Linked DNA regions of Homo sapiens. The protein of the gene in region 1 interacts with the protein of each later gene in a pairwise test. Each region holds a gene or a part of one and is shown in the gene's direction. Other genes may lie near its edges. The genes, in order: EFNA5, SLC13A4, HIBADH and SGPL1.

Evidence for each region.
Region 2: the proteins of EFNA5 (region 1) and SLC13A4 interact in binary tests that used the Homo sapiens proteins (3 or more experiments, as listed by UniProt).
Region 3: the proteins of EFNA5 (region 1) and HIBADH interact in binary tests that used the Homo sapiens proteins (3 or more experiments, as listed by UniProt).
Region 4: the proteins of EFNA5 (region 1) and SGPL1 interact in binary tests that used the Homo sapiens proteins (3 or more experiments, as listed by UniProt).

What each region holds. Positions count from the first base shown.
Region 1 is NC_000005.10:107,376,359-107,380,937, reverse strand, and holds the end of EFNA5 (ephrin-A5 isoform 1 precursor), read left to right. Parts: 3' UTR 1-4,044; downstream 4,045-4,579. UniProt on the Homo sapiens protein: Cell surface GPI-bound ligand for Eph receptors, a family of receptor tyrosine kinases which are crucial for migration, repulsion and adhesion during neuronal, vascular and epithelial development.
Region 2 is NC_000007.14:135,725,171-135,732,169, reverse strand, and holds the start of SLC13A4 (solute carrier family 13 member 4), read left to right. Parts: upstream 1-3,983; 5' UTR 3,984-4,673; coding exon 4,674-4,772; intron 4,773-6,999. UniProt on the Homo sapiens protein: Sodium:sulfate symporter that mediates sulfate reabsorption in the high endothelial venules (HEV).
Region 3 is NC_000007.14:27,659,863-27,666,839, reverse strand, and holds the start of HIBADH (3-hydroxyisobutyrate dehydrogenase, mitochondrial isoform 1 precursor), read left to right. Parts: upstream 1-3,956; 5' UTR 3,957-4,051; coding exon 4,052-4,142; intron 4,143-6,977.
Region 4 is NC_000010.11:70,818,935-70,825,969, forward strand, and holds part of SGPL1 (sphingosine-1-phosphate lyase 1), read left to right. Parts: intron 1-7,035. UniProt on the Homo sapiens protein: Cleaves phosphorylated sphingoid bases (PSBs), such as sphingosine-1-phosphate, into fatty aldehydes and phosphoethanolamine. Elevates stress-induced ceramide production and apoptosis.

The sequences.
Region 1 (4,579 bases):
TTCTCCTCTAAGAACTCACCTCCGTTAGCGCACTGTGTCAGCGGGCTATGGACAAGGAAGAATAGTGGCAGATGCAGCCAGCGCTGGCTAGGGCTGGGAGGGTTTTGCTCTCCTATGCAATATTTATGCCTTCTCATTCAGAACTGTAAGATGATCGCGCAGGGCATCATGTCACCATGTCAGGTCCGGAGGGGAGGTATTAAGAATAGATACGATATTACACCATTTCCTATAGGAGTATGTAAATGAACAGGCTTCTAAAAGGTTGAGACACTGGTTTTTTTTTTTAATATGACTGTCTTAAAGCATTCTTGACAGCAAAACTTGTGCTCTCTAAAAGAAGCCTTTTTTTTTTTTCTAGGAGGCAGGTTGGGTGTGGAATGCTAATACAGAGCAGGTGTGAAAACAGAGAAAACTACAGGTTTGCTGGGGGTGTGTATGTGTGAGTGCCTCTAATTTTTTTGGTGACTGGGCAGTGCACACCAGATATTTTTTCTTTGAATACAGATCACCATGGTGCTACAACTTTTTTTTTTTTTTTTTTTTTTTTTTTTTTTTTTTTTAAGAAACTCAAAGAGGCATTTTTATGAATAAAGTGACCTTCCCCAAGGCTGACAAGCCAGGGTTGATGAGTGCATAGTGGAATAGCTTTGGATACTCCTCTGGGGGATGACATGTACCAAGGAGAGGACCGCAGTGGCCAGAGGAGACATGATTTGGCTTTGCTGGAGCGCCAGTGTGCTGTGGCCTTTCCCCGCCTCCCACCCTAGTACCCACGTTTTGCTCCACACTCCTTGACCGCAGGGGCTCGGACACAAACCCCTGTCACCAGGAGAGTCAGTCAGCACTACTTGGGAGGGCTAAAGGGAAATTTGGAAATAAAATTCCAAAGTTTGGAGTAAAAAAATTCAAGTGTTGATTTTATATTCTTTCCCTTTCTGACACAGCCTAAAGCGTAGGGGGAACATGTGTTTATCTGTGGGAGATAAACAAGATGGAGTCCCAAAGACTTTAACAAAATATTTTTTTAAAAATCCACTAGAATAGAAAATACATTATTTAGATATACTTTATGCTGAGAGTGAGTATATATGCTTGTCCTATTTAAACTTGTGAGAAAAAGTGGTATCCCTTGATACATTTAGAAATATGGGGGCTATCTTGTTTCATTGTGGGGGTGGGGCAGAAGGAGAATAAATGCAGGATGACCCTGTTGAAGGAATCTTAGCATGGCCAACAGGGGACGTTTCCAGTCGATTACCAGGAAATGCAAGCCTTGGGGTTTCTACTGGTGGTGGGGCTGTCATGAACTTTAAAATCCAAAGCCTAGACAAGGAAAAGTGTTAGACCAATTGAAAAGCAATCCAGCCCTTTTTTTTTTTTTTTTTTTGGCTTTGCACGACATGTCAACAGAAACCATGCCTTTCAATATAAGAAATAAATGTGATGATCATGTAAAATGTGAAAAATTGAAAGCATTCCAGCAAAATAAGAATTTTTTATATATTTGTTTTTTAAGATGTATATGTTAAAAAAAGAGAAGGTCGCATTATGGACAGACTTCGTGAATGGGAATTTGCTTAGAATTGTGAGTAGTTCTGAATTAGAAAAGTATGTGAAGGAAAGGCAGCTGTAAACGTATTGTGCCCTGGAGAGTTGTACACATGTTGAAATGTAATCTGGGCTTACCTGATCCATTTGGAGTGGATGTCACTGCCGAGTCTGTTCTCACATGGAACCATGTGTGTGGGGTTGCCAGCCTCACAGATACAATCAATCCTATTCCCCTCTGACATAAGGAACTCCTCTGGAGTGGCAGAGTCTTATCACAGAAGGCAGCCACCATTTCACCAAAACAAAAGTTCACGGCATTCAATTCCTTTTTCCTTTAGCTATTTATATATGCAGTACTCTCAGTCATATGCAGAAATACTTTTTTTTTTTTAATTAATAGTTACAGGCTTGTTGGTCCAGTGGGATTTGGGTAGGGGGAGAAAGATACCTTCTAAAATGGATCAATAGAACCAAAATAATACAGCATGTTCTATAACCACAAGGAAATCAAATGATCCTGTCATGATTCCAGTTAGTCATAACTATGTTAGCAGTGCTAAATGCATTTTAGAAATGGTGACTTCTGTGGTTTTCCTAGCATTTGTCTCTAACAAATGGTGAAATAATTACTCATGGCCCTCTCTGCCATTGTCTTTCATTTTTTCACAGTGAAATTAGACCCCTTTACTTCACCATTCTGCCACTGCAAATTAAGTATAAAGAAAATAGCAAGAGTGTCCACACCAGTAGACAGTAAGCTTCTCTACCTGTAAGTGATGAAATCATAGCTAATGCACTTGCCATGGAGTTTTCAAGATGATTGGTGTCAGACAGTTTTCACTTTGTTTAAAAAGTGTTGGTGGCCTTTTGTGGTGGTGTTACAATCCTCTGGGGGCTTAGGAGGATGTTGATGCAACTTTTAGAAGCTTTTAATTTCAAAAACAACTCAAAAATCTGAAGGACAGTCATAGCTGCCACTCAGCCCCAGTTAGTCAAACCCCAGTGACCTTTGCCCCTGGTTGCCAAGGGCTTTGCAACATCAAGCAGGGAAATAAGGATCTGTCTGTTTAGTGGATACCGTGTATCCTTTAATAGACCAGGTAACAGTTCGTGTTAGTTTAGACTATTGTTTTGTACTGTACTTTCTTGGGTGGCAGAGGAAAGAAAAGTAAAACATTAAAAAAAAAAAAAAAACTGCGTTCTTTAAATTCTGTATTATTAGCAACCTCTGTTGTACATAGTGTTTGATAATAAAGTATTAATTTGATTCTTATGTCTTTTGTAAGTGAGAACAATAGACTTTCAGGATACAAAACATGCATTGAGGCTTTGAAACATCCAATGTGTACCATGGCTGAAAAAAAGAGTCACAAGTGGCTGAGACACTGCTCCATACAGGACTCATGTGTGGTCATTGCCCACCCAATCTTATGACTCCATCATCTTGGGACCTGGAACAACATGACTTTTTTGATCGATATTTTGTCCTCGGTGTTTTCAAGGTCTGATGTTGGAGCCCTGTGGCCCACCCTCCCTTCTCCACCAGCATGTTGGTTTGAAAAGGATAGGGAATTTAGAAACAGTTCTGTACTTTGGTTTGGTTTGGTTTTCTGTTTGTGATTGTTTTCATGGACTGTTTTATTTTTTCCCAGGAAGAGTCTTTATCAATATCATGTGCAGCTCACTCATGGAAATGGTTGCAAACCAATCAGTGTAGGAAGCTTAAATGGGGCTGTTTCCCTCTCTGTGTCGTTGTGAAAGGAAGAGTCACACAGTACCTGTGGATTTTCAGGGACTCTGTTTTTCTCCGGTGCCTTAGCAACGGCAGCAGCCATTTGTATTATTTTCAAATAATTAGAAAAACAGTTTTCAACTCCTCCTTTCCATTCATTGCTCTCAGAGTTGTGGTCACTGACTTTTCTTTTGAAAACCGCCTCCACCAACACCCCCGTTTGCCTACACCACCCCCCTTTTACTTAGTATGTTTATTTTTTGTGTGTCTCTTGCCTTCCTCCCACGTTTTATTTCCCCTCAGAGCTGTGAATGGGCAGGTCTGTCTCTGGTTTGGCATCACTGAGTTTTTCCCATGCATTGGCCCCAGGGCTGCTAGGATGTGAGACAAATCTCCCTACAATGGGCTTGCTCCCATTGTCTGTACAGTTTAATAGATGCTGGCATGTCGGAGGTTACCCATGAGTCAAAATCCGCTCTCCATGCTTACTCTTGACACCCCATTGAAGCCACTCATTGTGTGTGCGTCTGGGTGTGAAGTCCAGCTCCGTGTGGTCCTGTGCTTGTACTGCCCTGCTTTGCAGTTCCTTTGCACTTACTCATCGAGTGCTGTTTTGAAATGCTGACATTATATAAACGTAAAAGAAAATGTAAAAAAAAAAAACCCACACACAAACAAACCCATACGATCTGTATTTGTATATACACGTGTCCGTACAAGTATAACTAAATAAAAATTAAAGATTTTCATCATTTTAATTGGATCCCTCCTTCTACTTGTTTGTTCCTTGAATGATGCCTTTATTTCAGGGGCTACTTGTACTCTGCTGATTTTTCAAAATCTTTGTGGACAGAAAAGATAATACAACATGCACAAGAGAAGGCCTGGGAAGCTCAAAGAATGCAGAGTTAGAAATGGCCAAGTATCTGGGCGCATTCCAGTTATTCTGATGAGAGAATAGTGAGATTTCAGCCTAGTCTCTGTATTTGAGCCTTAAAATAGGCACTATGACAAGCCCTGCATCCTAAAACGACTGTTAAATACAACAGGAGCCAAATACAAATTGTATTCTTTTACTTTAGACATAGTTTTTTCACCCCATCAAGAAAAAGACCAAATAAGCATTTTCCCAGCAAATATACTGGAAGAAGAAAAGAATAACAGTAATGATAATCATAATCTCTTCAGTACTGCCCAAAGCCTCAATTCTCACAATCAAGGAAGAATTAACTTACTACTGTGTGACCTTAGGCAAGTCACACGATATCTTTGGGACTCAGTTTCCTTATCTGT
Region 2 (6,999 bases), on another chromosome or scaffold:
TACCAATGTAACTTGCCCTTCACAGTCTGTTCTTTCTTAGCTGGCCATTGCCTACAAACTACGATAGCCAGGTTTGTTATAATTCTATGTTAAATAAGAGTTAATAGATGAAGTCCTCTGCTAGGGGTCGAGCGTCTGGGTCCTAATAAGGATTCCTCATTAGCTCAGAGATCTTTCTGTCTTCTCCTAAGTTTACAGCTGAGCTCAGCAAGCAAAAGCTGCAACAAGTCTGATCTTTGAATGAGTGAGGATTTATTGGGCTAAATTTGATTCTGAAATGGGTATTTAACAGTTGTCATTTGATAATGATGAGGTCTGGACTCCTTCAAAATCTTTGAGCAAATAAGCTTTGCATAGCAGTGCTAGCCGCATGATCTTTTTGGAGAAATACTAGGACACTGGAAGAAGGTATTCATCATCAGAGAAAAACACAGCTTTGCATCCTGATATTCTCAGGCTCAGAAGATTAGTAAGTCTCAGTTTCTCTTTCTCATTCCCTGACCATTCTGCTCTTTTACCTCCTCCAAATGCAGATTCTGATATATGCTTTTTTTGTTCAATCTTTCTTTTTCTAAATGTACATATTCTCTCTGACATGGTCACTCTGCTTGTCTCTGTCTTTCTTTCTTTTATTTTAGTTGGTATCTCTGCTGCTGTATATTTGGGCCCAATTCCAAATATCTCTGTATCTGTTTTTTGATGCATCTCCAAGACTCTTCTGCTTGACTTTTGCTCTATCTCTGCTGACCCACACTCTAACACTCACTGTCTGTCAGTCTTCTCTGGGTATCATTGTCTAAGTAAAACACAAGTCAGTGTACAGACAGCGTTGGGATCGGCCAGAGGCAGATAAACATGGTAGCCTATCTTCACAGTTTGTACTTTTCCTAGATGTCAGATGGGGAGTGGATTAGCAATGGCCTCAGTCCCTAGACACTGTGCAATACCCTGATAGTCAGTCTTGTATCCCGCCCCGAGGCTCCACTCCCTTGACAATGGATCTGAAAGCTTTCTTGTACTCAGAATCATCAGATGGAAAGGCCCACCCTTGTAGTCCCTGACCACCATGTTATGTAGATGGCTGCTCCCAGTAGTAAGAAATCCATGAATGGGAAGATGGTTCCCAGGAACATTCACCCAGCAACAAAAAAATTAAACACAAATTGGGGCTTGAATTTTTGTGGCAATCAATGACTGAAAAAAAAATAGAAAAAAGAAGGACATGACCTTTTTAAAGACAAATGAAGACTCATTTTCAGTAACTAGAGTCTTAAAAACTATTTTAATCTGAATGCAGATCATTGTTTACCCACAGAGAGTTTTATGACAATGATTTCACTGACATGCAGAATCAAATATTATGATCACCACCAGCAGCCAAAAAACCCTATTCTTTGCCCAAGGAGTAGTAGAAATGTAGACTAGACAGACAAACAGGGTCTCCTATTTTGCCTCATTAGTGCCACACTCTATACAACTACAGTCACGAAGGGGTCACATTTGGTTATAATTACTATTAGAATAATATGGGAGTGTGATGTTTGTGGTGGAAACTTGCCCATGACTTATGTAACCATTTCTGCTGACAAATTTTAGGATCTAAAAACTTTGTGGGTTTTTTTGTTTTGTTTTTGTTTGTTTGTTTTTGGGACAGTCTCGCTCTGTCACCCAGGCTGGAGTGCAGTGGCACCTCCGCCTACAGTGTTCAAACGATTCTCCCACCTCAGCCTCCCAAGTAGCTGGGACCACAGGCACACGTCACCATGCCCTGCTAATTTTTTTGTATTTTTAGCAGAGATGGGGTTTCACCATGTTGGCCAGGCTGGTCTCAAACTCCTGACCTCAAGTGGTCCACCTGCCTCAGCCTCCCAAAATGCTAGGATTACAGGCGTGAGCCACCGTGCCTGGCCCAGGATCTAAAAACTTTCTAAGTTTCCTCCATCGTTGGCATCCTCACAGCTATCTCCAATGTCACTCAAGAGACATCAACAGACATTTAACTGCTGCAGACTTCATTGCTCTGTCACCTCACCTTGAATCTAACAAATCAAAGTATTTCTGCAGGTCCAATGGTCTAAAATCAAATGCTTGTTAAATGACTTTTTACAACACCCCTTACTTTCCTAATCCATTTCAATCTTATTTTTTTTATTGTGGTAAAAAACACATCAGGTAAAATGTACCATCTTAACCATTTTTAAGCATATGGTACAGCAGTGTTAACTCCATGCATGTTGTGAAACAGACCCCCGGAACTTTCTCATCTTGTAATTCTGAAGTTCTATACCCACCGAACAACTCCTCTTTTCCCCTTCCCCCTGCCTGCCCCAGCTCTTGGCACCATTATTCTGCTTTCTGTTTTTGAGAGTCTGACTACTTAAGATACCTCATACAAGCGGGATCTGGCTTACATTTCTTGAGCATTGTATTCTGGAAAAGTGTTTCCTTCCTCTGAAAAATGGGTAGAGTTCTGAAGGAGAACTACTGGTCTTATTGTACACTTGCTGTACCTATTTTTATTTAACAAATATTCATCTATGGTATAATAAAGATGTCATGATTGAGTTGCTCACTGGAATCTTTGTTATCTCAGAGTATCTCACCGAGGAATTTGGAATGGTTCATGGGTTTAACAGTGGATGTTGACTTCCACAGCTGCTTATAATTATTCGCTGTCTTTAATGTTTGCGACCAAAACATCACACACGTGGTATTGTTCATTCTGAGTTTCAAAATCATAACCAAAAAAAAATGAGGCCAGAATGTAGTAAATACAGTAGCCAGTCTTTAACATGCATTTAAAGAGTTGAGTCATCCTAGCCCATCCTACGATGGCAAGATAATTTCAAAGGGGACCTCAGCTGTCCACAGTTGCACCTGCCTTAAAAGTCAAGAAGAATTTGTTTTTTGGGTCACTTCCCTGGTCACTTTAGCCTGGGGATCATTTCCAAGTAGTATAGTTGCAGATCTTCGAACGCCATTCCTGTGTTCTGTGAATTCAAGACAACATGGGTTTTATAACCCTTTGACTCTGCTCAGCATCTCCCAGATCAAGGTAAGGTAATGTTGCCAAGAACCACTACTTACAGAATGTTTGGGCTTTTGCTTTTGCTTTTCTTCCTTGCCCCAAATCCACATGTCCGTTCTGAGAAAAGAAGCTAACAACTTCTTCCAATCTGTAAACAGGAGAAATTCCAGAGTTCAACTGCAGCTAAGACCTTGTCCCTGAACTTGTCAACTTCTTCCCTGCCCTCCCACCTCCTCCTTTCGTACCAGCCAAAGAAGGTCTTCGGTTTCCTTTTTGGAGAGCCCCAGAGAGAAGCATTTGAGCACCTACTTTAGCCAGAGAGACCACTGACATCTGGGCATGAGACTGGCATCTAGACTTTGCCAGGGAGGCAGCTATACTTCCCAAAAGATCTGGGGTCTTTCTCACGAGCTCATACCCTCTGCTGGCCTAGACCCTTTATATTCCCCCCTCGGTGCTGAGGCAAACGATCTTTGCCAGCAGGGAGGTCTGAAAGGCTTAACTTTGTACACTCTGAGGCAAATTCTCCAGAAGTAATGTTGCATTTTCTCCCTGCCACCAGGCACATTCCCTTCCCAAGGTCTAGATCAGCAGGTGGCCCTCCCAGCGAAAGCTCTGTGTCCTATGATCCGAAACAATAAAGCTGTGCTTGGGTACGTGAGATTATGTTTACGATGATGGTCATCACTCCAGCCCTAGGAAGTTTGAGAAACTGAAAAATAAGCTTAGCAGGCTGCCTAGGTTCTGCGGAATCAGCAGGCCCCCGCTGTGACCAATCAAGAGCGGCCGCGGGGAGAGAAATTGACTCATTCTTTTCAATTTGCTGATTGGCTTTGAGAAGTGGGCGGAGCTACTGTCTCTGTCCCGGCTTCCCATTGGTGGATGAAAGTTAAAGGTGGGCCTCCAGCAAGTTTTGTCCTTTGATAAAAAGGAATGTCTTGGGGACTTTTCTTTTCTGCTTTGCAGGCCCAGGCTCAAGGCAAATTATAAGTAGGGAACCAATTTGAGGGAAAGACATGTGAACAGAGTTAAGGTACCACGTCCTGGGAGCGACCAGCAGCCCCACCTGAAGTCCGCATGCAACTCTGACAAGCTCAGGTGCTTGTTTTAAGGAAAGGGGCTACTAGAGTCTTACCAACAGCGAGCCCAGGTGGGAGATGAAACAGGTACTCCCCAAAATAGGTCATCCGAGGGAGGAAAACTGATGGAGAGCACAATGTGCTCTGAGCGTTTTTAATGTTTTTAAGCTTTTAAATGATTTCTTCAAGGCCGAGCAGCAGCAGCAAAGGTGTGGCTTAAAGGATTAAGGGGGTTTCTGCTGACACCTAGAATGAAGTTACTCTATTACTAATCAAGCCGAGAGGAGGCCCACTATGCCCCCGTTTATCATCCTTTCCCAGTTCCTTTTTGCTGGTCACAAAACGATGCTCATCAATCCCACCTAAAGCAGGAGGCCAGGAGCCCAGCCTCTTGTAGAAACAGCGAGGGTATAACTGCCCTCCCGTTCTGCCCCCAAGACGAAGGAGGACTCTCGGAAGCCAAGAAAGGTTTAAGAAGTCTTTCTGGATAGAGAGCAGTGCCCAGGCAGGAAGCCTTTCGCCGGCAGAGCGGGGTCCAAGGACGAGCTGGAGAGGACAGAGGCGCGATGGGCCTGCTGCAGGGCCTGCTCCGAGTCCGGAAGCTGCTGCTGGTCGTCTGCGTCCCGCTCCTGCTGCTGCCTCTGCCCGTCCTCCACCCCAGCAGCGTGAGTACCGACCTGCGCCCACCGGGGGTCTGGGAGTCAGTGGGAGGGCAAAGAGGGGAGGTCGGTAGGGGAACATGGGGCGCTCAGGCAGTCCCTCAAAGTGGCTTGTGGTGGGTTTAAAGAAATGGAAGGATTTTTCCAGAGGAAACCAAGATATCTTCTTCCTAAAAGCTGTCATGTTCATCTCCTATCCCAGTCCCATTCCCCCAACCCCATGGCCCCCACCGGGGTCAGGACAGAGTAGGGGCCTTGGCAGAAGTGACTGATGGGTGTTGCACCAAGCAGCAGGCCAGCCTGCCCCAGCAGCGGGGGCCAGCGACACCCATGCAAACGACATGGTGCACCTGTGTTTGTCGGGAGTTCACCTGGGACCCTGGTTATCTGAGAGCCCCTGGAGACACAGAAAGAGCTCCCAATAGTGGCACTGAGGAGAAGGTTGGGGGAGGAAGAGAACCGTGGAGCCAATCCGTGGTCTGTGGTCGTGTCCTGGTGGGCTTCGATGACCACAGTTGAAGCTCTAATCCCGAAGGCGCCTATCAACTTCAGGGAATGAATGTTTAGGGAAGGAATGAAAGCAGAACTTAGCAGGCTGCCCTGCTCCCATGCACGTGGCCTTGAATTATTTGTGTCTTCTGTGTTTTCTTCTCTGTCCTCTTGAAGGACAGACAAAAAGTGACACGATAAAAAAGAGATAAGAGCCCCCAAACTCTAGCCCGTGACCTCATTCTTCACCTGGTTTGTGAGAACAGAGGAACCTCAGCTCTGGCTCAGCATCCAGCTTGCCTGTCACACCCTCCTGGTGGTCACCTGCTTCCCTTCCCTTCCCTCCGCTGTTCTCTTCCTCCTGTCTGTGGCTTGTCCCCTTCCCCCAGCTGGCACTGCCCTGGAGACTTTAGGAAAAATAAGCTAAAACAGGTTAATCACGTTTGTAGGAGGGGGAGCAATTCTTCCACTCTGCTCCTTAAGTAACTTGGTAACCAAGATTAAGTTAAACAGTTAAACAGAGGGGATTAGGATGGTTCTTCTTAAAAACAAACTGGCTTAAATCTTTCATAGAATAAATACTCCAGAGTGCCAGGGAGACGCTGATTAAAACTGGGCTGGGATTAGCAGACAGTGATTGCTGCTGACATTCTTCCTGGACTGTACCCTAGTCAATTTTCTGCTTTGTCCAAATGGGCCTGATTTTTTTTCTTTTTGTGGCTTTTCTTGTTTTTGTTTTTTCTCCATGTAGGTTGCTATAAGGGACTGTTACCGAGAGACATACTAGCCTCCTCTCCCAAGCAGTATCAGGAACCTCTCATATCTCCTGGTTGAGGCAGCCCCATCTTTGGGGACCTTGGCCACTGCCCACAGAAGGCACAGACTAGGTGCCCAGCAGGTAGAGTTTCATCCATCCGTCACCCCTTTCATCAAACTTTTTTTTGTAGACGCAGAGTCTCACTCTGTCACCCAGTCCGGAGTGCGGTGGCACAATCGTAGCTCACTGCAGCCTTGAGCTCCTGGGGTTAAGCAATCCTCGTGCCTCAGCCTCTGGAGTAGCTGGGACTACAGGCAAGCAAGTACCACCACATGCAGCTAATTTTTAAAAAAATTTTTTTTGTAGAAATGGGGGTTTCACTATGTTGCCCAGGCTGGTCTCAAACTCATGGTCTGACGTGATCCTCCCAAAGTGTTGAGATTACAGGTGTGAGCCACCGTGCCTGGCCTGCATCAAACTTTTAGAGTCTGATATTTAACCCTTAAAATTCCAAATGGATTTTCTTGCTCTGGACTGGAGTTGAGAGCAGTGATGGAGTACCTGGGCAGGAGCTCCTGGCCTGCAGTTTTGATGGTTCTAAGCGACAAGCCTCAGCTACATTTTAGGAGGAGTCAAAATGACCTTCCCCCTTTTTCTTGCCCAACTCTCTAAAACTAGAGGTCCAGACACTGTTTATCATGTTATAGAAGAAGAGGGTACAAGAGACAGCATCCATAACTAAGCCCTTCCTCAGTGCCCCCAGTGGGATAAAAGTTGCATCTCAACTGCCCAAGCTAAATTTTTTAAAAGGCGCCCCCAGTCATTGATGATAACAGATAACAGACTTCAACCTCCTTCCCGTGAAGTTGGAGTGGGATATCACTGGGGTGGTCAAACTGCGTGGAAAACGAGCAGTTCCACGCCTAAGTGAGTAGCTGACTAGGAAACGTCCTACATGGGGAAATGCCACTTTCGAACTCTTTCCTT
Region 3 (6,977 bases), on another chromosome or scaffold:
CCTCAGCCTCCCGAGTAGCTGGGACTACAGGCGCCCGCCACCACACCTGGCTAATTTTTTTGTATTTTTAGTAGAGACGGGGTTTCACCGTATTAGCCAGGATGGTCCCGATCTCCTGACCACGTGATCCGCCCGCCTTGGCCTCCCAAAGTGCTGGGATTACAGGCTTGAGCCACCTCGCCCAGCGCTTCGTAGCTTTTTAAATCCCAGTCTAGTTTCTCTCTGTTTAGATTAGATAGTTTCTACTGTTCTATCTTCTAGCTCAGTGATTCTTTTCTTTATTCTGCTGTTGAGTTAAAAAATTGTATTTCTTGCATTTTTTCAGTTTTAAAATTTCCATTTATTTCTTCTTTATATGTTGTTTCTTTGCTGAGATTTCTTTTTATTTAATTCAAGCATGTTTTATTGTTTTATTTTACTTTTTGAGAAGGAGTCTCACTCTGCCATCCAGGCTGGAGTGCAGTGGCGTGATAGCTCACTGCAACCTCCGCCTCCTGGGTTCAAGTGATTCTCCTGCCTCAGCCTCCTGAGTTGCTGGGATTACAGGTGCCCACCACCACACCTGGGTAATTTTTGTATTTTTTTGGAAGAGATGGGGTTTTACCATGTTGGCCAGGCTGATCTTGAACTCCTCACCTCAAGTGATCTGCCAGCCTCGGCCTCCCAAAGTGCTAAGATTACAGGTGTGAGCCACCATGCCTGGCCTCAAGCATGTTTTAATTGCTTCTTGAAATATTTTCTGATGGATGCTTTCAAATCTTTGTTAGATAATTTTAACTTGTCATCTCAGTGTTGGCATCTATTGTCTTTTTTATTCAGCTTGAAATCTTCCTGGGTTTTGGAATCATGAGTCATTTTTTAATTGAAATTTGGTATCATGAGTGATTTTTTGTTGAAATCTGGACATTTGGGTATTATGATATTTTGGATATTATTTAAACCTTTTATTTTAACTAGTTTTTCTTGACACTGCTCTGGCAGGGGGCATCAACTTGTAAATGGCAACTGGTAGTAGAAGTCTAGGTTCCTTATTCCACCTCTGTTGACACCAAGGGTGGGTGGTTCCTTGTTACTGCTGGGCAATGGTGGGAGTTTCAGCTCCCCACTAGTTGTCCACTGATACTTCCCTAGTTGAGAGGGCTTGGAATGGCTCCTTACTGCCCCCATGTAGCCTCCAGTGACACCATGGAGGGGAAGGGGTGTGACATCCTTACCATTGGGCAGTGATGAAAGCTCTGACTCTCCAATACACCTCCAATTACACCATCTAAGCAGGGAAAGGGAGGGGTACCTCACCACTGTAAGGTAGGAGTGGAAATCCAGGGTCGCCCTGTGGTTTCCAGTGACACTGAGAGTAGGGAAGGATGTGTGTGGAGGATTACTTGTTACTGCCCAGTTGAAGATGAAAATCCCATACCTCTCTTTGGTTTTCTCTGACATCACCTTAGAGGGGTTGAGGAGTAGAGCGATTGGGGTGTTAGGATGCTGGGGTGTCTCATCACAACCTGGAGAGTGTGGAAGTCTAGGCTCCCAACTCAGCCTTTGCTTTATGGGGTGGGGTCAGTGTGTGTATGTATGTGTGTATTGTTTGTCTACAGTGGAGTGATTATCTTCTAAATGTTTCCTTTCTTGCTAGGCCACTCCTTTTTCATCACTTGGCTAGAAAGAGCAGCCTTTTATTGGGGCACTTTTTGTCTATCTATGCTTCCTGGCATTTTGGGGTTTCTGGTTTTGGCTTCTCCAGCACCCAGTTTGGGGTATATAAGGCTACATGAAAACCCAAGGAACTTCCCACCGTGTTGCTCTCTGGACCCTAGCCAGTGTGACTTCTCTCCACCTTTCAAAGTCTCCCTATGTTTATCTTATATATAATGTTGAGTTTTTAGTTGTACTTAGAAGAATAGGGAGAAACCTATCTACTCCATCTTCCTGGAAGCGGAAGTCAGGGGCCACTATAAGGCATTGAAACAATTACAAACAAAAATGCGTGGCAAAGACTCAGGGAGGAGTTGCAGTGCCTTTCAAACAAGGGCATCAGGAGGGCAATCAAATGAAGAAAGCTAACCAGCCATAGGCAGGAACTGCATTTGCCAGTACAATAATATCTGCAAGCACCTTCAAACAGTAAGAATTACTTAAAAATTCATAACGCTTCTTTAAAATCATGGAAACCTATGAAAATTCCTTAGTTTATGAATCAATGTAGGGCTTCTTGGAGGAGACATTGTTGGAGAAGACAATGCAGGGCTTCTTGGAGGAGACACAGTTGAAAGACCAATTGCAGTTCAGGAGTTAATTATAGAAACCTGTAGTGCTGGAGGAAGAAAAAGAAAAAGAAACCTGTAGGCCCACATTTGTTGCCTGCAGGAGATCTATTCCAGCTAAAACCTGACGAAACCAGGAAGAGAGGCACAGGTGGGAAATGCTCCAGAAACTAATTTACCCCTAGTAGGGGTGGGGACCCAAATCTAGGAGAAGGTCTAATTGTTGAAATGAGTTTTTTCTCCCTCCCTCCCTTCGTCCCTTTCCTTCCTTCTTTTCATTTAGTGTTGGGTAGAGGGTTGGGGTGGAGTGATGGTCAAAGAAGGGCATTAACTTCCTCCCAGTTACAGATAGGGACCTTGCACTCTGTACAAGTTTTTAAGTTTTTGGAAACGTTGCCAGCATGCCCAGAAACATGAAAAGAGCCCAGATGGAAATGATCCAATTCCTTTGCTTTCAACTCCATGGGTTACTGAGTTGAAAAAAAGGTCAAAGTCAAATTTTGTTGATTGTGCTACTTAGATTGGGGTTCGCATTTCCCTAGCTACTCCATACACATTCTCTTTCCTGCTGTATTGCCATTCTCCAAAGGCTATAGTCTTGCTTTGGTGTGGTCATGGCTTCCAACCCTTTGGTGGAGTCAGTGGAGATGAGAAGGCCTGCAATTACCCCCAAGGGGTTTACAGACTCAAATATGTACACTAAGCATTGACAGAAGAATGACTAAATGTCTGTCTCTCTGCACCGCGCAGTGGCTCACGCCTGTAATAACCAGCACTTTGGGAGGCCGAGGCGGGCGGATCACTTGACGCCAGGAGTTTGAGACCAGCCTAGGCAAAATGGCGACACCCCGCCTCTACTCAAAGTGCCAAAAAAATTAGCCGGGTGTGGTGGCGCACGCAGGCCTATAGTCCCACCTCACCTACTCCGGAGGCTGAAGCAGGAGAATCACTTGAACCCGGGAGGCGGAGATTGCAGTGAGCCGAGATCGCGCCACTGCACTCCAGCCTGGGTGACAGAGAGACTCCGTCTCCAAAAAAAAAAAAGGTCTTTCTAATACACATACATATACTACTACTTTCTGGATTTTATATTTAGTTTTGCTTACAAAATGGATTTAGGGTGTAGAATTTTCAAAGATTAGAGAAATATGCCTTGAAATAGAAAGTGCAAGTTTCTAGTAACTCTTCCCTTCAAAGATAATGTTACCAACTTCTTTTCCTACTATTTTTAGTATTGAGAAACTGTTGTGTTAAGTAAAATCAAATGAATTTAAAAGTTATTACACACATGGTAGCTTTCTGAGTGTTTTTCAAGCTGCGAGTCAGTTTTGTCCTTTTTAACACGCAGCGGTTGTGGGGACAAGGTTTCCGAGGAGGCGGGAGCGAGCGACGGCCCCCGCCTCCCACACGCCCTCTGCTTTGGTAAACAAGGAGACTCCCGCCCGCAGGCTGTAAATGAGGCACGAGCTTGGGGGCAGCGCCAGGGCGCCTGGCGTCACTGTTCAAAAAGGCCTCTTATTGGTCCTTCGCACAGCTGCGGACCTGGGAATTCTGATTGGTCTGCTTCCCTGTCCGTAAAGGGATTGACAGGCCCTGCCGCGTCAGGCCGCTCCTCTCGGCTCCGCGCTCCTTCCCTCGCGCGTGGGCACCCGCCCCCGAGCGGTGAGAGCGCGTGCGCGCGCGCCCTTCTCCGTGGGCGAGCCAGCCAGTCCCGCTGCACACGCTCGCAGTCTGTGGGCCCTCCGGGAGGCGGCGGAGGTCACCGCGGGGAGAGGGGCGGGCGCAGCATGGCAGCCTCCTTACGGCTCCTCGGAGCTGCCTCCGGTCTCCGGTACTGGAGCCGGCGGCTGCGGCCGGCAGCCGGCAGCTTTGCAGCGGGTAAGGACCTCACGCCTCCTCCCCCTTGTCCTTCTTTCGGCCGCTCGCTTCTTCTGTCCAGACGGCCGAAGAAGTCTTTTCTCGGGAGGCCCTGCGGTTGGGCTGGGGCTTAAAAAACAATATTTTGGCTGGTACTAAAGGCCTGTCCTTTTCTGCGGCCGCCACTCACTCCGCGAGTACCCCCCTCTGCCTTCCCTCCCTTTCTCCCGGGCTCCTGATGAACGGGTTCAGCGCCCTTTTCGGGATTTAGGAAGAGGTGGGGAAGAGCTTGGGCTGAAGAGAAGAGAGTATTTGGGACCCCGGCATGCTGCTTTGGAGTTAGGACTCCGAGGACGTTTGGAGCGCCCAACTCCAGGAGCAACCCGCACTCACCCCAGCGACCCCTGGTCTTTCAGCGCCCCCAGGGTGCACCTTGGGTTGGGGACACACTTGGGCAGCAGGGCCTGATGTTTAACCACCTGAGTCCGAGGGGATGGCCTTATTACACAAGCGGTGGCTGTACAAGCCAGGCAGTAAGTCTTTCAGCAAAGTTTCAGTCACCCTTGACCAGCAAGACGGGCTTCCCCCCTCTACTGTAACCTAAAAAAATGTCATTTTTGTCAAATTATGAACCAAAACACGTTCAGCGTCCTCAAGATTGTGGGCAGAATTAATCCTGCCTCCCTCCTCTCATACCATGGTAAATTGTGGAAGCTAGCCATGAACTTACAAAGAGGCAGTTTTTAGAGCCAGGATGAAGATCCACGGAGATCTAATACAGTCTTTCATACTCCGCACGAGGGACATGAGGCCCCTTGGATGAGTGAATCAGGATATTCCCAGCAAGACCTAGAAAGTTGTTATCAGTTGTTCCTAATTCCTTAACTTTCTATCACACCAGGACTCCTCTTTAATTGAAAAATTGGTTGATTTGTGGGGGCACTGCCGTTGTCTTCCTCAAACTGAAAGTTTGAGAGTTGTAACAATGCATCGTTTAGCAAGATCATACTGAGGATTAATAACAAAAAAAACCTTGGCATTAATTTTTTCTAATCTTTGCTTAAAAAAAAAATAGTGGGTTAGGATTTGAGCCCCTTGGCCCCCCGCCCTTTTTTTTTTTTTTTTTTTTTTTTGAGACAGGGTCTCTGTCGCCCAGGCTGGAGTGCAGTGGCCCAGTCACACTGCTCACTGCAGTCTCGACCTCCTGGGCTCAGGTGATCCTCCCACCTCAGCCTCCCGAGTAGCTGGGATTACAGGCATGTGCCACCACGCCCGTCCAATTTTTGTATTTTTAGTAGGGACGGAGTTTCGCCATGTTGCCCAGGCTGGTCTTGAACTCCTGCGCTCAAGTGATCCTCCCAAAGCGTTGGGATTATAGGCATGAACCACTGTGGCTGGCCAGGAATTGTAAGAACTTTCTCTTACAATTCTTAACAGCTTCCCATTCTCCCCCTCAGTGAAACCTCTGAATTTCCTTTCTGGCTGGAGAAGAACAGAGGCTCGGTGAGATGCAAGAGACCAGATGTCTGATACAGAACCACAGTAACAAGATAAAAACTCAGAATATGCCAAACTTGAATGTAACCACTGTTTGAGCTTCATATATTGAGCTACAAAAATGCTTCCGACTTTTGAGATAACCCTAAAAGAATAGACACTTTTCCACAGTAGCACCAGTTTTCACATGAATTCACAATTCTTTCAGTTCCCATTAGCCAAGGAAGACATATTTGCTGTTTAGTGGTTTTACAAGGTGTTCTAATGGTATTTTAATGAACCCTTGATGTACCTTTTAGAGTTATGAAAGTTCTTACCAATTCATGGTGAAAGAGCCTGAGGCCTAAGACTGTAATACGTGCCTCTGTAAACTGGGAGGGCCTACCTCAGAGTGCTGATTAGACTACTTTGGCATATGGTCTTGTACTTTGGGTTCTTTGGCCCAAAGGTAATTGTCAGAATATAGATTTCTGATAAATTTTAAATAGTTCTTTTGTGATGAAGTGGTTAAATCACTTAAGCAATTTTTTTTTCTCTTGAAAAAAATTTTTTTTTTTCCCTCGGAGTCTTTGTCTGTCGCCCAGGCTAGAGTGCATTGGCGCAATCTCAGCTCACTGCAAGCTCCGCCTCCCAGGTTCACGCCATTCTCCTGCCTCAGCCTCCGGAGTACCTGGGACTACAGGCGCCTGCCACCACGCCCGGCTAGTTTTTTGGTATTTTTTAGTAGAAACGGGGTTTCACCATGTTAGCCAGGATGGTCTCTATCACTTGACCTCGTGATCCGCCCGCCTTGGCCTCCCAGAGTGCTGGGATTACAGGCGTGAGCCACTGTGCCCGGCCTTTCTTTGGAATTGTTTTAAACATTTAAATTTCTGTTAATTTTAGTTTACTGCAAAAGTGTTAACTTTTCTGACATTAGATTCTTAAAGAGTAGAAAAAAATCTGCCTGCAAGTTTGGAGTCAAATGACATTAAGAAAAAGAACCATGTTCAGATAGTAATGTGTGATGTTCTGAATTCTGTTGGATATTTGTAGTATGTTTAAGATGTTTATATCATATGAATGATAATATTATAAGGAGCTATATAATTTACTGTTTAAAAAAATGAAACCTGAAAGTTGCCGGTTAGTAGCACATCTTTTTAACTTTTTTATAAATACATTTTAGAGACAGGTCTCCCCGTGTTGTCCAGGCAGGAGTACAATGGCACCTACTTAGCTCACTGCAACCTTGAACTCCTGTACTCAAGTGATCTTCCGCCTCAGCTTCCCAAGTAGTTAGGATTGCAGGGTGCACCACGATACCTAGCTAATTTAAAAAAAAATGTTTTTTGAGACAAGGCTAGTTGCCTACTACGC
Region 4 (7,035 bases), on another chromosome or scaffold:
GTGCAGTAATTTATCACCCAGAAATAACCGCTGTGAGCATCTTGGATGGTTAATGCAGAGTGACTTGTAGCAATTGACAGTTTCTGTTTATCCTCTTACAGAAGGATATGTTTATGTAAATTATAGGTTCTTATATGTAAGATATTTCCCCATGCACAGAGATATGGTTATTACTTATAGGGCCTATGCATTTACTTTAACAGAACAATGACTGCTTTTACTCGGAATATTAACTTTGGAATCAGTTTTCTTTTGAGGTATTTCTCTAGCTGTTGCCACCACCTTTCACCTCCTCACCTGTTAATTTAGAATGTTTAGGAGTGTTGCTTTGCTTGTTGCTGTAAGGAATTAATCCACATAGATGCGAGTGGCCCTAGGCAGTCATCACTTTCTGAAGACAACATACATGTTGCATGAAGTGCTTTCACTGGAAAAGTTGTCATTCATTCCTTGACTGTAATGTATAATGCTATTTGGAACTAACTGGTAAAGAACCAATAACCATGGCTGGGTTTTCAGTGGCACACTAACCCATCATTCTATGAGGTGTTTCTCAAGCTACTTTATATGATATGTAAAACATGTTCTTGGCCCTCCACCTGGGAAGAAAGGACCTAAGTGAATAAAAAAATAACCTCAGTGCAGTGCAGCATCTCAGAATTAGAAATAGTCTTAGAAGTCATGGGATGCAGCTTTTTTTTTTTTTTTTTTTTTGAGACAAGGTCTCACTCTGATGCCCAGGCTGGAGTGCAGTGGCATGATCTCAGCTTACTGCATCCTCAATCTCTGAGGCTCAGATGATCCTTCCACCTCAGCCTCCTGAGTAGCTGGGACGACAGGCACATGCCACCATGCCCGGCTGATTTTTGTATTTATTTTTTGTAGAGATGGTAGTTTGCCATGTTACCCAGGCTGGTATCTAACTCCTGGGCTCAAGGGATCCAACCGCCTGCCTTGGCCTCCCAAAGTGCTGGATTACAGGCATGAGCCACTGTACCTGGCCTGTGATGCAGCTTATATTATACATGAATCTGTTGAAGAGTATCTCTGGTAAATGGATATCCAGTCTCCCGTCTTTTCTGCTAATGGAATAAGTGAGCAAAAGCTAGGAAACAATACAAGGTGGATTCAGGAATAGTAATGTTAACTCTGATAGCTAACATTTATTGAGCATGTATTACATGTTAAGTGTAGGAATACTGTACTTATTTAATTTTCACAAAAACCTTTTGGTATCCTTCTTTTACAGATGAAAAACGAGGCTTATAGAGAGTAACTACAGCAGTTGAGTGGTGGAGCCAAGTTTGACCTCAGTTGGTCTGACTTCAGATCCCTCCCTCTTGCCTACTTTGTGTCCTTACCCCTGGTAAGGGTAGAGGTTGCTGACCATTGTGACTGATGGGAGAGGGTCTGTGTGGAGCAGATGGGATAGGATAGCTCCACCCTCTAGGGGGCACTTTGGCAATGGGGGACTGGGGGAGGAGGGAGTCTTTTTTCTTCTAGTGTAGTCTGAAAATACATGTTTTATTATTAAATTATTATTAAATCTTGTTTATTGGGTCAGGCGTGGTGGCTCATGCCTGTAATTCCAGCACTTTGGGAGGCTCAGGCGGGCAGAGTACTTGAGGCCAGGTGTTCTAGACCAGCCTGGTCAACATGGCGAAACTCTGTCTCTACTAAAAATACAAAAATTAGCTGGGCATGGTGGCGTACACTTGTATTCCCGGCTATTTAGGAGGCTGAGGCAAGAGAGTTGCTTGAACCCGGGAGGTGGAGGTTGCAGTGAGCTGAAGCTGCACCATTACACTCCAGCCTGGGCGACAGAGCGAGACTGTCTCAAAAAAAAAAAAATTTGTGTTTTATTTTCTTTTACGTCGCATTTAATGAATTATATTGAAATTTTAAAACTTGTATCTGCAGGCATAGTGTTATAATCTTTAAATGCCATGTCAGAGTAGCAAAAGGGATTACAGAATATTTGTTATAAAAAGAGGGCATTGGGTCATAGAGTTGAAGACTACTTGTGTGGACAGTATGCTGTGAGAGAAAACCTGGAGATGACCTGGAGTCCACATATAACAAGCCTTGAATCCAGACTGACAGGCTCGGGCTATCAGCCCTCAGTGTGTTCCTGCCCTCAATTTTGTTATCATTTGATTAGGATAGTTTGCTTGCCTTTTTCCATTTGCTCGTATGTGATGTGTCATAGACTGCAGTACTTTCCACCTGTGTCTCATAGAGAATAAAATGAGTATGTTCATCTGCTGAGAGTTGTGATGATGTCAGAGGGAATTCAAGTCAGACAGCTTTGTAGCAGCCTTTCTCCCCCTTGGCAACCATTCTTTTTATTCATACTCTCCTCCTTGGTGCTAGAGGGTGGTATCACTTTGCAAGTTGCCAAATATTTGTAGTTTTTAAGAAAAAGGTATTTTATAAAGCCAGTCTACCCCTTAGGTGGCTTTTTTCTTTTCTCATCAGAAAATGATGACTAAATTAGCTGATATTCATAGATGAATCAAGGTTAGCGTGTGCACCCTGGTAGTGCTAGGTGGGGTTTGAGTGATAATTGCTTATCTAGGGCAGTGGTTCTTGACCAGGGGCAATTTTGCCCTCTGGGTGACATTTGACAATGCCTAGAGACATTTTGGGTTGTTACACCTGAAGGGTTCTGCTGGCATCTAGTGGGTAGAGGCTAGGGATGCAACCAAACACCTTACAACGCACAGTTTCCTGCAAACAAGAATTATCTGGCCTAGAATGTCAATAGTGGTGAGGTTGAGAAACTGGTATGAAGTTTCTTACCATAGATACCTGGATATCTGTGTAGTCTATGCTTTCATATGGGTGGGGGAGTGATTCCCTTCTTGGAGGTTAACGTGTCTGTTATTGTCTCACTTGGGGTTATTTTGCCCATGGGTCAAGCCTTGCTGCTCAGGAATATATATTGGAGATGGTGCAGCTGATCTTTTATAGCAATGCAGAATTCTTAAGAAATGCTGTCCTTTGCAACATTTCTGCACCACTCTTTTCTTGATTTGCAAACAGCAAGCTTCCCTCAGTTTTGTTTTTTGGGTTCAAAAATTGAATCTTTCCAGGTCCTTGAGCGTCTTTATCTGTGACCCTTGACTCTTTTTCAGGGATGCTTTCTTTCTGAATCTCAAGTGGGATTTAAGCAATAAACTGAAAGATTGACCTTAGGAGCTCTGTTCTATTATTTGAGCCTTGTGTCTTGTTTGTAGGATTTGCTAGAAGAAAGGGAAAATTCATTGGGATTGTTGATAGGACATTAAAAAATTTGTTGACATTTGAGTGGCCATTGCAGGATGAACACTGTATTTGGCAATCTCCCAGTGTTATAGATGAAACAGAGCTGTAATAATTTCCACAGCCTTTGGTTTAAAGGAAAAGAGGGTTATAAACAGATAGAATCCAAATCCCAGTATTTGACTTAGCTTTTCAGTCTATGTGTCAGGAATTTTTAGTAATATTTACCTTCTTAATTAGGTTTTACCCAATCTAATATTATATACAGTTTGTGCACATTGGTGGCAGAATTGAGAATCAGCCTGGGTTTAAGAATTTCCATAGGGAATTGATGTGAATCAGTCTGTATGTGTAAATGTACAGAACCCAATTACTGAGATAAAAACCATGCTGTGGGGGAAGGGGAGATAGGGGCCCTCTGAGAAGATGGAATGGTGAAGGCTGCGAGTAGTTTGTGGATATATCAGTCATATCTTGGCATAATCCAACAGCGTACTAAGGGATCAAGGGACTATTTTCAAGGCTGAGCAGGTTTAAGGAAAACATCTAGGTGAAACATCTAAGGGCTAGCTAGCAATAGGAGAGCCATTATCACTCTTTTTTTTTTTTTTTTGTCATGGCAATTTCACTGAAGCTTTTATTGCCTCTATTGGTAATATGACAGGGACTGTAAGAAACACAATTGAACTTACAGAGATATGCAGATGATATTCACTAAAGATAATCTTCATCTCAAGTATTTTTTATATGTGGGCACTTCTAATTTTATACATTTTTCTATTTAAAAAGCATTACATTTTAAAATTTGTACCTGTTTTGACATTTGGCAAAAAGGAAACTGTACCTATGGTTCAGTTTAAAACAAAGAATCAGCATGGGGAGTTTACCGGAATGAGGACTGAAACACTTAGGAGTTAAAGCAATTCAAGGGGCGTGTGTGTGTCTCTCCCTTTCTCCGTCAATCTCTCTCACTCTCTCTGGCTCTCTCACAGACACAGACTCAAACACACACAGCCATATGTGTAATCATTTTTTAGTACAAAATATTCCCTGTAGCCAGACATTTATCTTCAGAATAATCACACCACATTAAATCAGTCTTCTCTTTTCAGCCCTAGTAAAAGTTTTGTTTAATTCTAAGATGCCATCATAGTGAACAACCTTAACTTTTATCCTACATAATTATATTCAAAGCTTTATGTATTTTTGTTTATAATTACACAGTAATTATAAATGTTTAGTACCAACCTGATGACAAACACTATTTTGTTGAAAAGGTTTTGCATTTAAAAAGAAAAATATGTAAAATCCAAGGCACTAGGCCACGAACCAATATCAGACTTTTAAAGAAAACACTTTATATTGAAAAAAAAAAAAAAAAAAAGCTAATGGGATCTCATTTCAAAACACAGCATATGTGAATTAATCAATCTGAAACCAATAACCATAACTCAAAATCTTCAAGACAGGAAACAAAACAGTACATATATATAGATATATAGATATATATATCTTTTAAAAATTTTTCATAATTGAAGTTCCTCTTTATATTTACAAAAAAATCAGGAAATACTGAAAGCAGCAAGATTCTTCTTTTTCCTTTTTCTTTTAATAACCAATTCCAGTAGCCTGAATAGAAATTTTCAGATTTTTCTTTTGGTAAAACTGCATTCTTGAATTAAAGTTATGATTGGAATATTGATATGTCTATAGGGAAAGCTTTCTAGTCTATTTCAAAATCATGTAAATAAAAAGCAGTTTTGATATGTCATTGTTTCTTAAAATAATTTCCATATTTGCATAAAATGTACTGCTATTCTAAGTACATTCCTTTGTTAATATCAACCCTAGACCTTAGAGAGTGCCTGGATATATATCCCAAGCAGAATCTGTTCCTATCAAAAGACCATAATCATCGAACATTTGAAGCATTACATTTCTAGCCTGCCTTACGGAAATGTTTAAGAAAGCAAGAAACCCTTCTTCACATGTCAGTAAGTGAACAGGGAAATGACCATTTTCAGCATAAAAGCAGCTCATGGGTCTTGTAATGAAAAAAATACATACAAGATAGCATTCTGCTTTGATGAGAAAACTGAGCTAATCTGAGTGAAACAAAAACAGTAAAGAGACTAGAAGCCAGATTGGTATTTTGCATCATGTATGCTTGTTTGAAAATCTTTGCTCCTGAAGTAAATATTTGGCAACCAAGTGATTAGCGACCACAATTTCAACAAAATAATAAGTCATTGAAAATGGACTATTTGTCTGAAAGAGCAATACCTATATTACAAAGATTGAACTTCATGGCTCATTACAACCATTTTCAAAATTTAACTGCAACTATCTTCTTATAAATTAAGAGAGTTTAATTTGTGTTCCATAGTGCGATGACAAAAAAAAAGTAAAAACAAAACAAAAAAACCCTCATGCCTAAATTTAGAATATTGTATTATGTAGCAATCCAAAACATTCAAAACAAATTAAATAGTTTAACTTATGTGACAGGCAGATAAGCATTTCAAAAGCATAATGAAGTCCAATTATGTAGTGCTTAATGTAGACAGGAGAAGAATCTAACATTATGCAGACATTTTCTAAATAAAAGCTCCCTGTAGGACAGCTATATATAAACATGGGTAAGGTAAGCGCAGACTAGTTCTGTGGAACCTTTTGAAATCAAGAGTCTAAAACACAATACATTTTTCAGGTAGGCACCAAGTTATCCTAAAAAATTTTCATGTTGGTTATTCTGACGTTGTTTTTTCTCTTTTTTTTTTTTTTTGAGACAAGTCTTGCTCTGTCGCCCAGGCTAGAGTGCAGTGGCTCGATCTCGGCTCACTGCAACCTCCGCCTCCTGGGTTCAAGTGATTCTCCTGCCTCAGCCTCCCAAGTAGCTGGGATTACACTCTTAAGCCTGTGAGAGGGCAAGGAAGGGAGTAGTTTCTGGAACTTTGAGAGAGTTGAGATGAAGGAGAAGGTAACCTGTAGGAATGCCAGCCAGTGACCCAGTAGGAAAGGCATCAAGGGGAATAAATACTTCAAACTCTTTTGCTACCCTCTGATCTCCTGCTGTAGCCTCCCATTGGTCTAATACAACTGGAAACCAGAGGTTAAGGAGTCTGGTTGATTTAATTCAGAGGGTGGAATCCGGAGGCACATAGCCGAGCTGGAAAATGCTGGATGGAGGATCTGGAGGAGGAGATCATCTGGAGGGGAGAACATCCAGCATGCTGGAGTTGAGAGGTCTAGTTTGTCTTAAAAGGCACAAATGAGGAGATAATTCTTGAACAGAATCTTGAAGGTGGATAGCATATGGATTATAGAAAGGGAATGTTCCCACTGATTTTAACAGGATAGATTCAGAGGCACACAGTTGCCACAGCTTTGGCAAGCCCAAAGCTGCTTTGTTCCAGTAGTAGCCTTAGAATCTTAATTGCCTGGAGGGCCTTTAAAAGTACTGCAGTCCAGCTTTCTTGCTGCCTAGGAATCCCTCTACAATGCCCTGTCAGGAGTGAGTGCTACATACTTTCTCAGGGGGTTCTTTCCACTGTTGGACAGCTTTAATTTTTAGAAAATTTTTCATGTGTCCAGATCACTGAATGCATCAGCTAGAATTAGGTTTGAGTGTATATAACAGAAAAACCTAAAGTAATAGAGATTTTTTAAAAGACATAAATATATTTCTTTAAGAGAAAACTGGCCTGGCGCGGTGGCTCACGCCTGTAATCCCAACACTTTGGGAGGCCGAAATGGGCGGATCACTTGAAG